Regions from separate parts of the Homo sapiens genome. Here region 2 is linked to region 1. The links come from fine-mapping of genetic effects on gene expression. A gene starts in region 1. The other region holds a variant in brackets. All regions are shown on one strand. Distances are between the middles of the regions. Region 1 holds the start of TP73 (tumor protein p73). Region 2 overlaps TP73 (tumor protein p73).

Region 1 (5,358 bases):
CGTCCGGGGAGAACTTGCAGAGTAAGCTGGAGAGCTTGAATACCTCGGAGAAGTTCATGGCCGCCGCCTGCCGCGGGCGCCACCCTGCGCCCGAAAACCCGCGGGACCCCTGGGCGCGCAGCAGGCTGCAACAGCCGACGCCGGCCTCCGAGGCCGGAAGTCAGAAGGCGGAAGTGAACTGCAGCCTATCAGCGCCGCCGGCTTCCGCGCGGCATTGTGGGGCTTGTAGTTCTTGTGCCGCAGGGCTTTAAAGGAAACGCCCACGTTTCTTCCGACCAGGGATTTCCGACCCGAGAACCTTACCTCAAAGGCCGGGAGGCCTTTGAGCACCTCCAGCTAGGGCTGCTGATAAAAATGTAGAAAGCACAGTAAAATTTGAATTTCAGATTCACAACAAATCTAGTTATAAGTATGTTCCCAAATATTGCACGGGACATGCTAATACGGAAAAATTACTCGCTAGTCTGAAATTCAAATTTAATTGAGCGACCTGTGTGTCTGCGTGTGTGTACACATGCATATATATATATTTATATTTATATGTAAATGTATGTTTACATGTAAATATATGTTTACCTACAAATATATCTTTAATAAGTAATACGGTGTCTGTCGCACATATATTATATCGTGTATGTAATGTATAAGTATTTATTTCGTTTGCTTGGGGTTTTGTTTGCTTTTGCTGAGTCCGACCCCTCTACCTGCCGCCTGGCCCTTGCCTCACGCTCCAGTGCCACTGAGATCAAGGAGAGAACGAATTTGCCGCTGACTGGGCAGAGCGAGCGCGTGGATCGCGGCCACCGCCCGTTCATCACCCGCGCGCATCTGGGCTGGCACCGGGCGAAGAATCGTGCGGGTCTGGGACCTGGGGGCCCAGAGGGAGCGAGCTCCTGCGCGGGCGCTCGGTCCGCAGGTTTCGCAGGCTCAGGGGCGTGCCTCGTTCTCACCCCCACTCCGGACCCCGGTCCTCTTCCCTAGACAGCGGCCCCCTCCACCCCTGGCTCCCGCAGGCCGCTAGTAGTCCGCGCCAGGCCCCGCCGGCGCCTCTAGGGCCCCCCAGATCGCGCAGACCCTGACATCCCCGCCTGGCCCTGGGTTCTGGGAGCTGAGAGCCGGCCAGGGTCCTGCTCGTACCTCCGGGCGCCCAGCCTCGGGTCTGCTCCCCGCGGACGCCCCAACCTCCCCGGCCGAATGGATGGTGGTGCGCGCGCGTCCTACTCCGGCGGTGCCGGCCTTTTCTGTTGCCAAAACTAGACCCAAACCTCTGCATGGGATTCGTCTTTGGGTCCCCACCCCGTGCGCCCAGCAAACAGTGGGTGAGCCATGAAGATGTGCGAGTCAGCCGGACCCTCCCCGTCAGGCGCGGACCCGCTGCGGCCAGAGAACCCAGTCTGCGCCAGCCCGGCTCGCTCGCGAAGCCACGGGCTTCACTGACGCGACTTTCCAAGACGTGGGGGTCACCATGGGCAGAGGACATCGGTTCGGAGCCAGATCACGGGCCCCATAAGCATCAGACCATAAGCAGCGCCGCCACTGAGAGCCGCTCGGAACTCGCCCAGCATGTCGGGTCCCCTAGCCAGGGCCTGGTGTACGTGGTCGAGGGCCCTGGAAGCCCCGATGGCCTAGGAGGAGCAGGCGGGCGGGGCGGCGGGTGTCGCTGGCCGGTAGAGAGCTTCGGCCTGACCTAGCGCAGGTCTGGTGCGCGCAGAGAACAACTCCAAGCGCACCGACGCCCGCGAGCTCCTTCCAAACACCGAACGGGATCCAGAGCCCGAGCCCACAGGCGGCGGCCGGGGGAGGGAGCAGGGTGCTGGCCGCCGCCCGGGAGTGTTCGCGTCCTGGGTGACCCCTGGAAGGACGTGGGGCCCAAACTCCGGCTGGGGTTGGGAGAGCAGCCCCCAGAGGCTCTCCGCGGGATCCTCTGCCGGGCGGGACCGTGGCTCCACAGGAGAAGTGGGTGGCAAGCCCTGCTTGGCGGAAAGCAGCCGTTCCCCTCCTCCTGGGCCTGGGGCGGCGCCCCTCACCCCTGTTCCCCGCCCCTCACCCCTGTTCCCCGCCGGCCACATCCCCTGCCCCTTGGATTCCAAGCGCCCCGCGCGCCGAGGAGCCCAGCGCTAGTGGCGGCGGCCAGGAGAGACCCGGGTGTCAGGAAAGATGGGCCGTCTGGGGGACAGCAGGGAGTCCGGGGGAAACGCAGGCGTCGGGCACAGAGTCGGCACCGGCGTCCCCAGCTCTGCCGAAGATCGCGGTCGGGTCTGGCCCGCGGGAGGGGCCCTGGCGCCGGACCTGCTTCGGCCCTGCGTGGGCGGCCTCGCCGGGCTCTGCAGGAGCGACGCGCGCCAAAAGGCGGCGGGAAGGAGGCGGGGCAGAGCGCGCCCGGGACCCCGACTTGGACGCGGCCAGCTGGAGAGGCGGAGCGCCGGGAGGAGACCTTGGCCCCGCCGCGACTCGGTGGCCCGCGCTGCCTTCCCGCGCGCCGGGCTAAAAAGGCGCTAACGCCCGCGGCCGCCTACTCCCCGCGGCGCCTCCCCTCCCCGCGCCCATATAACCCGCCTAGGGGCCGGGCAGCCCGCCCTGCCTCCCCGCCCGCGCACCCGCCCGGAGGCTCGCGCGCCCGCGAAGGGGACGCAGCGAAACCGGGGCCCGCGCCAGGCCAGCCGGGACGGACGCCGATGCCCGGGGCTGCGACGGCTGCAGGTAGGAGGCCCAGGGCCGGGGGGCGGTTCGGCTCCGCGGGCGGGGGCTGGAGCGCAGCGCTGGGCAGGCACCTGGGCTCGCAGCTCCGAAGCTGGGAGGTGAGGGGAGAGCGATCGGGGACGAGCTGGGACAAGGCGACACAGGGGCTCCCTCGGAGTTGGATCGGCCCCTGGGACTTGGCGCTCGCGAGAGGCTGGAGCGGCCAGAGTCTAGCCTGCGAGGAGACGCGGGTCCTGCCCTCAGCGCCGGCCGCCTTTGGCGCCAAAGACAGCCCCGCAGGGGTTCCGGGAGGGCCCTCCTCCTGCTGTCCCCTCTCCACCCCGGGCTCCGAGGGCCGTTGGGAGGGTAACCCCGGGAAGAGGCCGGGGTGCGGGGCGCGGGTGCAGGTGGAAATCGCCAGCAAGCTCCTCCCCGCCCGCGCGCTCCCTCCGACCTGCAGGGCTGTGCCAATCCCGAGGCCTCAGCTTCCCTGAGGAGCCAGGGCCAGGCCCCCCTCTGGACAGGGAGAAGGATCTGGGCGGGGGCCTTGACCCATGGAGTTGGTTACTAAGCGGTTTCGATGGTTTCCCGAGGGACAGCTCCCTGTGGCTCTGAGTTTGTCTGTCGAGGGCTCCTGGCCTGTCTCCGGAGCGGTCCCAGGTAGAGAAAGCCCGTGAAGAAATGGCCCGGGCCGGCCTGGAGGGAGACACCTCACGCCCCCTTAGCTCCTGGGCCGCCTCCTCCTGCAGCCCCTGCCTTTCCCGGGGCTTGGACTTGGGGAGCGATGATTACCTTTGCTCAGCTTGTATTTTGGCCTGGACGCTAGGAGATAAGCCCATGTAGTATGCACACGTCTGCTACATAAACAGGGGACAGATAGACGATCTTCAACCAGCAAGGGTGCAGGGAAAAGCAATGCACCCCAAACTTCTGACCAGAGGTCATTTGCTTCCAAAGATGCTGCCATCTGTTTATTCACTGTCTGGACATTTGGAAATGGCTCAGGCTCATTAACACAATGCTTTGGTTTTTGTTGTTTTGTTTTTTGTTGCTGTCATTGCTGTTTATTTGTTCAGCCTTAGCTCTGGGGGAGGAGTAAACAAAGCGCGTGGCCTCTGGCACTTACTGAGCGCTGAGCCACCCCTCTTTGGATTTATTCGGGGAAAGATTAAAAAGCATTTCATTAAGAACAGGACACGGTGTTTGAAATGTTGCCATATATGAATGTATGCATTACGTATGTAGTTTTTAAAATAAGATAAAAAGTTGGCTGGGCACGGTAGCTCACGCCTGTCATCCCTCACAGCCTTTGGGAGGCCAAGGTGGGTGGATCACCTGAGGTCAGGAGTTCGAGACCAGCCTGGCCATCATGGTGAAACCCAGTCTCTACTTGAAATACAAAAATTAGCTGGGCATGGTGGCAGGCACCTGTACTCCCAGCTACTCGGGAGGCTGAGGCACAAGAATTGCTTGAACCTGGGATGGAGAGGTTGCAGCGAGCTGATATCATGCCACTGCACTCCAGCCTGGGCAACAGAGCAAGACTCTGTCTCAAAAAATAAGATGAAATAAGATAAAAGTTGGTGTCAGAGGCTGCAGTGTGGCAGCTGCCTATTGTCAATCAGAGGTAGCCTGGGGTGAACGGAAGGCGGACCTGAGCGGGGCTTGTCTATGCGCGGCGGCCACCAGAGAATGGCTCGGGATGTGAGCCCTGCCTTGCAGTCCTTCTCGTGAAAGCTACAGCGAACAGTAGCTGTCTCCAAATCCCGAAGGCCAGTCGCATGGAGAAGCTGGTCTGGCACAGTGGTTAATGGGGTAGTATGGAAGTCAGAATGCTGGGGTTCAAATCTCCTCTTCCCCATTTACTCCAGCAAGTCACTTAACCACTTGGAGCCTCAGGTTACCCATCTGCAGAGTCGGGTAATAGTAGTTCCTGCCTCAGAGGCTTGGAGAACAGTCAGTGAGGTGCCGTCCGAAGGGCTTGGGAGAGTGCCTGGCACCCACTCAGTGTCCTCACACATGATGGCTTCGGGTCCCAGGTGCTGTTCCAGAGCTGGGAGAGCCAGGAGCCCTGGGGAGAGACCCGGCTCCTTAGTATCTGGTAGGTATCTCCAGGGCAGGAGGGATGGCAGTGAGGCAGGCATCTGCCCAAGGCGTGGGTGGAAGCTGATGGCATCTGTCAGAAGTATGCACTGGGGCAAGGATGCCTGGTTTAGTATTTATTTATAGGGCATGCCCCACCCAGGTCCAAGAATGGATTGATAACACTGAGCACGTGTGAAAGGCACGGCTAAAGTGGAGAGAAGAGAAGAGGCTGAGGGCCGAGAGAGGAGCCGCACACCCACTCCAGAACCCGGACGAGGCCCTGCCCTTGCCCAGCGGCGGTATTAACCCTGAGATTCCGAGCACACCAAAGTGACATCGCGTACACGGTGAACCCTGTGTTTGCAAAAAGTCAGAAAAAGTCTTCAAAACATCCTTTAAGGCCAGGCGCCGTGGCCCACGCCTGTAATCTCAGCCCTTTGGGAGGCCGAGGTGGGTGGATCACTTGAGATCAGGAGTTCAAGACCAGCCTGGGCAAAATGGTGAAATCTTGTCCCCACCAAAAATACAAAAATTAGCCGGGGGTGGTGTCTGGTGCCTGTAGTCTCAGCTACTCAGGAGGCTGAGGCAGGAGAA
Region 2 (5,358 bases), 25 kb after region 1:
GCCCAGGTGTCTCCTCCCACAATGGCCCAGGTGTCTCCTCCCACAATGGCCCAGGTGTCTCCTCCCACAATGGCCCAGGTGTCTCCTCCCACAATGGCCCAGGTGTCTCCTCCCACAATGGCCCAGGTGTCTCCTCCCACAATGGCCCAGGTGTCTCCTCCCACAATGGCCCAGGTGTCTCCTCCCACAATGGCCCAGGTGTCTCCTCCCACAATGGCCCAGGTGTCTCCTCCCACAATGGCCCAGGTGTCTCCTCCCACAATGGCCCAGGTGTCTCCTCCCACAATGGCCCAGGTGTCTCCTCCCACAATGGCCCCAGGTTTCTTTGCCACTTCAGATTGGAATCGTTGATCTGCTGAAATAACAGGTAAAATCATTGGTGGTTTGGGAACCACCGGAATCAGAAGTGCATTGAGATGTTTGCTTTAGGGGTGGCCCGGGGCGGGTGGAGTTCCTGGGGGCTTTTCCCTCCTCCCTGAATGGAGGAGGACACCCTGCACCCCTCCTGTGATCCCCCTTAAGAGCCAGTGTCCGGGATGGCTGGGCCAGACGGGGCAGAGGGGCCTGTGTCTCCTGCCCAGGCTGAGTGCGGACGGCTCGGTCTCAGAGCTCCACCGAGGGGTGGGTAGGTAACAGCAGCCCTGCGGCCAGGGCCCCTGCAGGTGGGAGTGGGTGTCCCCATGGGGAGTGCCTCTTCCAGAGTGGGCTCAGTCGGGGTGGAGTGTCCTGGCTTATCAAAGGTGGTTGTGGAGCCCTGTCTGCCCCAGGCCTGGGCAGAGGTGGAAGGGGTTGGGGAACTGACGAGGCCTTACCTGTGGGCCCATGGCCAAGGAAATGTCTGGTCTCCCACCTCCTGTCAGGTGGTGAGGGGAGAGGATGGGGCGTCAGCCGGAGACGGGGTTCCTAGAGGAGGCTGGGTCCTGGCCTGGCCTGGAGAGATAGGGATGAGATGGGAGGGCAGGAAGGGGGTGGTAGACAAAGGCTGAACACAGAGAGCACATAGCCAGGCATGTGGGGACTGGGGACAGGGGACAAGGAGGGCACCCATGGGGACAAGAGATAGGGAGAGGACAGAGGGACAGGAGACGGGGAGGGACAGAGGATGGGGGACAAGGAGGGGACAGGAGGACGGGGACAGGGAGGGGACACAGAAACAGGAGCTAGGACGGGGACAGAGGATGGGAGAAGGAGAGGTCAAAGGGACAGGGAACAGGGAGGGGACCCATGGGGATAGGGCAGGGATCTATGGGGACAAGGGACAGGGAGGGGACAGAGAAACAGGAGATGGGGAGGGGACAGAGGGATGCAGACAGGGAGGGGATAGAAGATGGGGGGCTAGGGGACAAAGGGAAAGGGGACAGGGAAGGAACCTATGGGGGACAGGGAGACAGGGGGACAGGGAGAGGACAGAGGAACAGGGGACAGGGAGGGGATGCTTGGGGACAGGGAGGGAATGCTTGGGACAGGGCAGGGGGACAGGGGGCTGTGGCTTTCGTGGGAAGCTATGGAAGACGAGGCCAGAGGGGTTGGGCAGGGTGAGATGAGAGAGGCTGAGAGCCCCTCACCGGCTGCGGACTCCTCCCCACAGGGCAGAGGGGAGCATTCGGGTGCGGCCAGGCCATCAGAGGACCTGGGCTTGGCTGGAGTCCCAGCTCCTCAGCCCTCAGTAGCTTTGGGCCAGCCACTGGGCCTCCTGGCCTCCACTTGCTCATCTCTGAACTGGGGCAGGGTTGGCGTGTGAGCCTGAGGCCCTGCAAAGTGCCTGGCCAGCCTCAGCTCGGAGCCATGGCACAGCACCCCCTCTCCGCCACGGCCCCGACAGCTGGGCGTGCGTTCTGCTGTGGGCAGCTGCCCTGAGCAACGTAGGGTGCTAAGCAGCATCCCTGTCTTGCACACTAGATTCCACAGCACCCTCTGACCCCGTGGAAAATGTCCCCACATGGGAATATCCTCTGGGGGTGGAACTGCCCCTGGTGAGAACCCCTAGGCTGAGACCTCAGAAGGCCCTGAGTCAAACCGAGAAGTCATCAGAGAGCCTTGTTTTCAGCTCCAGGGAGCTTGGGCAGGCTGGTTTTCTGGGCCACACAGTCCCCTCCCCAGCCCACCTGTGCTCCGTGGGTCCCGGGGAAGCTGTGGGGGCCTAATTGCTGGTGTGAGTTCCTTTCCTGTTCTGAGTCACACGTGTGTGGGGGCTCTCCCTGTGGTGCAGCTGGTACAGCGGCCCCTGGAGTTGAGGATCCAAGCAGGCTGAGGTCTGGGTTTGCCGGAGGGCCCTCGGTGGCTGGTCTTTGTCCTGCTCCCACTGCTGTGGGCACTGTAGGACTTGGAACGCTGGTCACCTTTCCAGCCTGGCAAAGGGAGGGGACTTGTCTGAGGCCTCATGGAAGTTGGGGCAGGGTCGAGGTGCCCTGCTTCCTGGGTGTGCCAGCAGCCTACAGCCTGGCTACAGCGTAACCAGGAACACCCAGCACAACTGTCCTTTGCAACTCTGTGCCCTGACTTGATGGTGCCAGGGC[TG/T]GGGGGGTGCCGGCCAGCAGCTCCCCAATGACCACCCCCAAATGCTGTGGCCACACAAAGCCTTCCACTGCAAGACCTGTGGTAATACACACTGGACGCCCCTGTTACAACTGAGAACTCATTTATTTCATTTCCTTCCTTCCCTTTTTTTTTTTTTTTTTTTTAGAGTTGTGGTCTAGCTCTGTTGCCCAGACTGGAGTGCAGTGGTGCAATCATGGCTCACTGCAGCCTCGAGCCCCTGGGCTCAAGTGATTCTCCCACCTCAGCACCCTGCGTGGTTTGGACTGCAGGCACATGCCATCACGCCCTCATGCCCAGCTAATATTTTTTTAAGTTTTTGGAGAGCTGAGGTCTCCCTGTGTTGCCCAGGCTGGTCTCAAGCCCTTGGGCTCAAGTAATCCTCCCTCCTTGGCCTCCTAAAGTGTTGGGATTACAGTTATGAACCACTGCACCCAGCCCATCCCTCCTAGACTAAATCTTCTTAGAAAAACCTACACTTCCAATAATGTATTTGCATTTTATGATGTTGATAAAACTTCCTAAAGATGTCTTATGAAATTGGTCTCCTTTCCCCATTGATACACATGATTTTTAAAACTATTGGCAACGTTTCAAAAGCAATTTCTGTTTTGTCCCAGAACCGTGATCCCCTTGTGAACGAATTTTCAAATTAAAAGGCAAATGGTTGGGAAAATTGGATTTAATTGAAAGGCCATTTTATTAGAATTGACTTATTTTTCTCGCCACTGGGATCCTTGCCTGAAAGGCGGCTGTGGGCAGAGGGCACATACTCCCCCTGCCCCAGCGCAGCGTCCCTGCACCCCCAACAGAGCTTCCTGTTCCTCATGCCCAGTACTCCCAGATGCCTGCGGAGCCAGTCATCAGCTCAGGTGTGTGAGGCCGGTTGGGGGAGCCCCTGCCTGGCGCCTGTGCCTGTGAGCAGTGTTCCTGTGGGGCCCTGGGACCAATGCTACCAGCGTTGGCGTTTTCCCAGGAAGTTGGGAATCAGGCATCTCGTGGCTTCCGGTTCAAGTTCCTCCGTGTGCTTTAAGTCTGGGCAGGTTTCCGGGTCCTGGTTTTGGCTAATGAGGAACCCGATTCCCATGGGGGAGGCCGGTGGCTGCAGCAGGGCCCCGAGCAGTGGCAAGGCTGGCCCTCATGACAGTGTCCTCCTCAGGGGGCCTGTCCCAGGCTCTTCATGACTCCCCTGGAGGCTTGTTAAAGGGGCAGATTCCTGGGCCCTGCCCCAGCCCCACTGTGGGGAGGGGTGTCCTGGAAGATGCATCTGCCCAGGGCTTCCGGCTGGTCCACACGCCTGCACCTGGAGGCCCACTGCCCACATCTCAGGCAAACAGGCCTGGGGATGTTTGGGGACCCAACTCCTGGCGTGGAGGAAGCCCCTTTCCCACCCCACATGCTCCTGGTGGTGGCCTGTCCTGTGAGCCTGGAGGGCCGGACGGGTGGGATCGGGGACCCACGACCACGCTCGCTGGCCTCTGTCCTGTGCCCAGGCAGGGATGAGAGGCCAAGCTGGTGTCCTGCAGTGCACAGTGGGTGCCGGTCAGGGGATGTGGAAGCTGGGTCTCCGGCAGGCAGAGGCGCGCTGACAAGAAGGGTCGCTGTTCCTCATTCAGGGTTCAGTGGGAAGAGAGGGTGTCGCTTCAGGGGGAGTTCACAGGATGCCGACTTGAAAATACAGCCAACGCCCATGTCCCAGGCATAAGATCACAAATCATGTTTTGCCGACCAGTTCCTGTGAGCCCTGAGCCCTGCGCGGAGGGATGCCCCGTGCACACCTGTTCACGGAACCCCTGGACCTCCAGTAGGGGTGCGGCGGGATGCCGTCGGCTCCCACGCTGTCTGTCTCCCTGTCCCTCTCTCTTTCCCTCTGTTTCTCTGTCTGTCTCTGTCTGTCTCTGTCTCCCTGTCTCTCTCCATCTCTCTCTGTCTCTCTCCCTGTCTCTCTGTCTCTGTCTCTCTCCATCTCTCTGTCTCTCTTTGTCCTTGTCTCTCCCTGTCTCTGTCTCTCTCACTCTCTGTCTCTCTTTGTCCTTGTCTCTCTGTTTTGTCTCTCTTTGTCCCTGTCTCTCTGTCTCTGTCTCTCTCTCTCTTTGTCCTTGTATCTCTCTGTCTCTCTTTGTCCCTGTCTCTCTCTGCCTTTGTCTCTCTCCGTCTCTCTTTGTCCCTGTCTCTCTCTGCCTTTGTCTCTCTCCGTCTCTCTTTGTCCTTGTCTCTCTGTTTTGTCTCTCTTTGTCCCTGTCTCTCTGTCTCTGTCTCTGTCTCTCTTTGTCCTTGTATCTCTCTGTCTCTCTTTGTCCCTGTCTCTCTCTGCCTTTGTCTCTCTCCGTCTCTCTGTCTCTCTTCCTGTCTCTCTCTATCTCTTTCCCTGTCTCTTTCTGTCTCTCTTTGTCTCTCTCTTTGTCCCTGTCTCTCTGTCTCTCTTCCTGTCTTTCTCTTTCTTTGTCCTTGTCTCTCTCTCTCTGTCTCTCTCTTCCTGTCTCTATCCCTGTCTCTATGTCTCTGTCTCTCTTTGTCCTTGTTTCTCTCTGTCTCTCTGTCTCTGTCTCTCTCTGTCTTTGTCCCACCTTAGCCTTGGGAGGGGACAGCTCACAGGCTGACAGATGAGGTCATGTGTCCTGAGCATGAGGTTTTCAGGTCTCACCCACGCTGTAGCATGTCAGAGCTTCGTTCCTTTTCATGGCCGCGTAATGTTCCATTGCTTGCTGGCACCACATCTCCTGTGCCCGGCCCTCTGCTGATGGGCGTCTGGGCTATGTGCACCGTTCAGCTACCAGGAATGGTGCTGCTGTGAAGGGAGCTGGGATTTTGTCATCCACCTGC

Evidence for each region.
Region 2: its variant is fine-mapped to the expression of TP73 in whole blood (TOPMed, PIP 0.97).

What each region holds. Positions count from the first base shown.
Region 1 is chr1:3,649,942-3,655,299 of GRCh38, forward strand. TP73 (tumor protein p73) reads left to right here and starts at 2,575. Exons shown (of 14, transcript NM_005427.4): 1 at 2,575-2,700. WRAP73 (WD repeat containing, antisense to TP73) reads right to left here and starts at 162. Exons shown (of 12, transcript NM_017818.4): 1 at 1-162. The coding sequence starts at 58. RefSeq lists an enhancer at 383-1,226 and a silencer at 2,186-3,135.
Region 2 is chr1:3,675,030-3,680,387 of GRCh38, forward strand. All of the region lies in intron 1 of TP73 (tumor protein p73), which reads left to right. Among named protein-coding and RNA genes, the nearest start is that of TP73-AS3, 8.8 kb to the left of the region's middle. RefSeq lists a silencer at 5,203-5,358. The variant TG/T (reference allele first, on the strand shown) is at 2,517.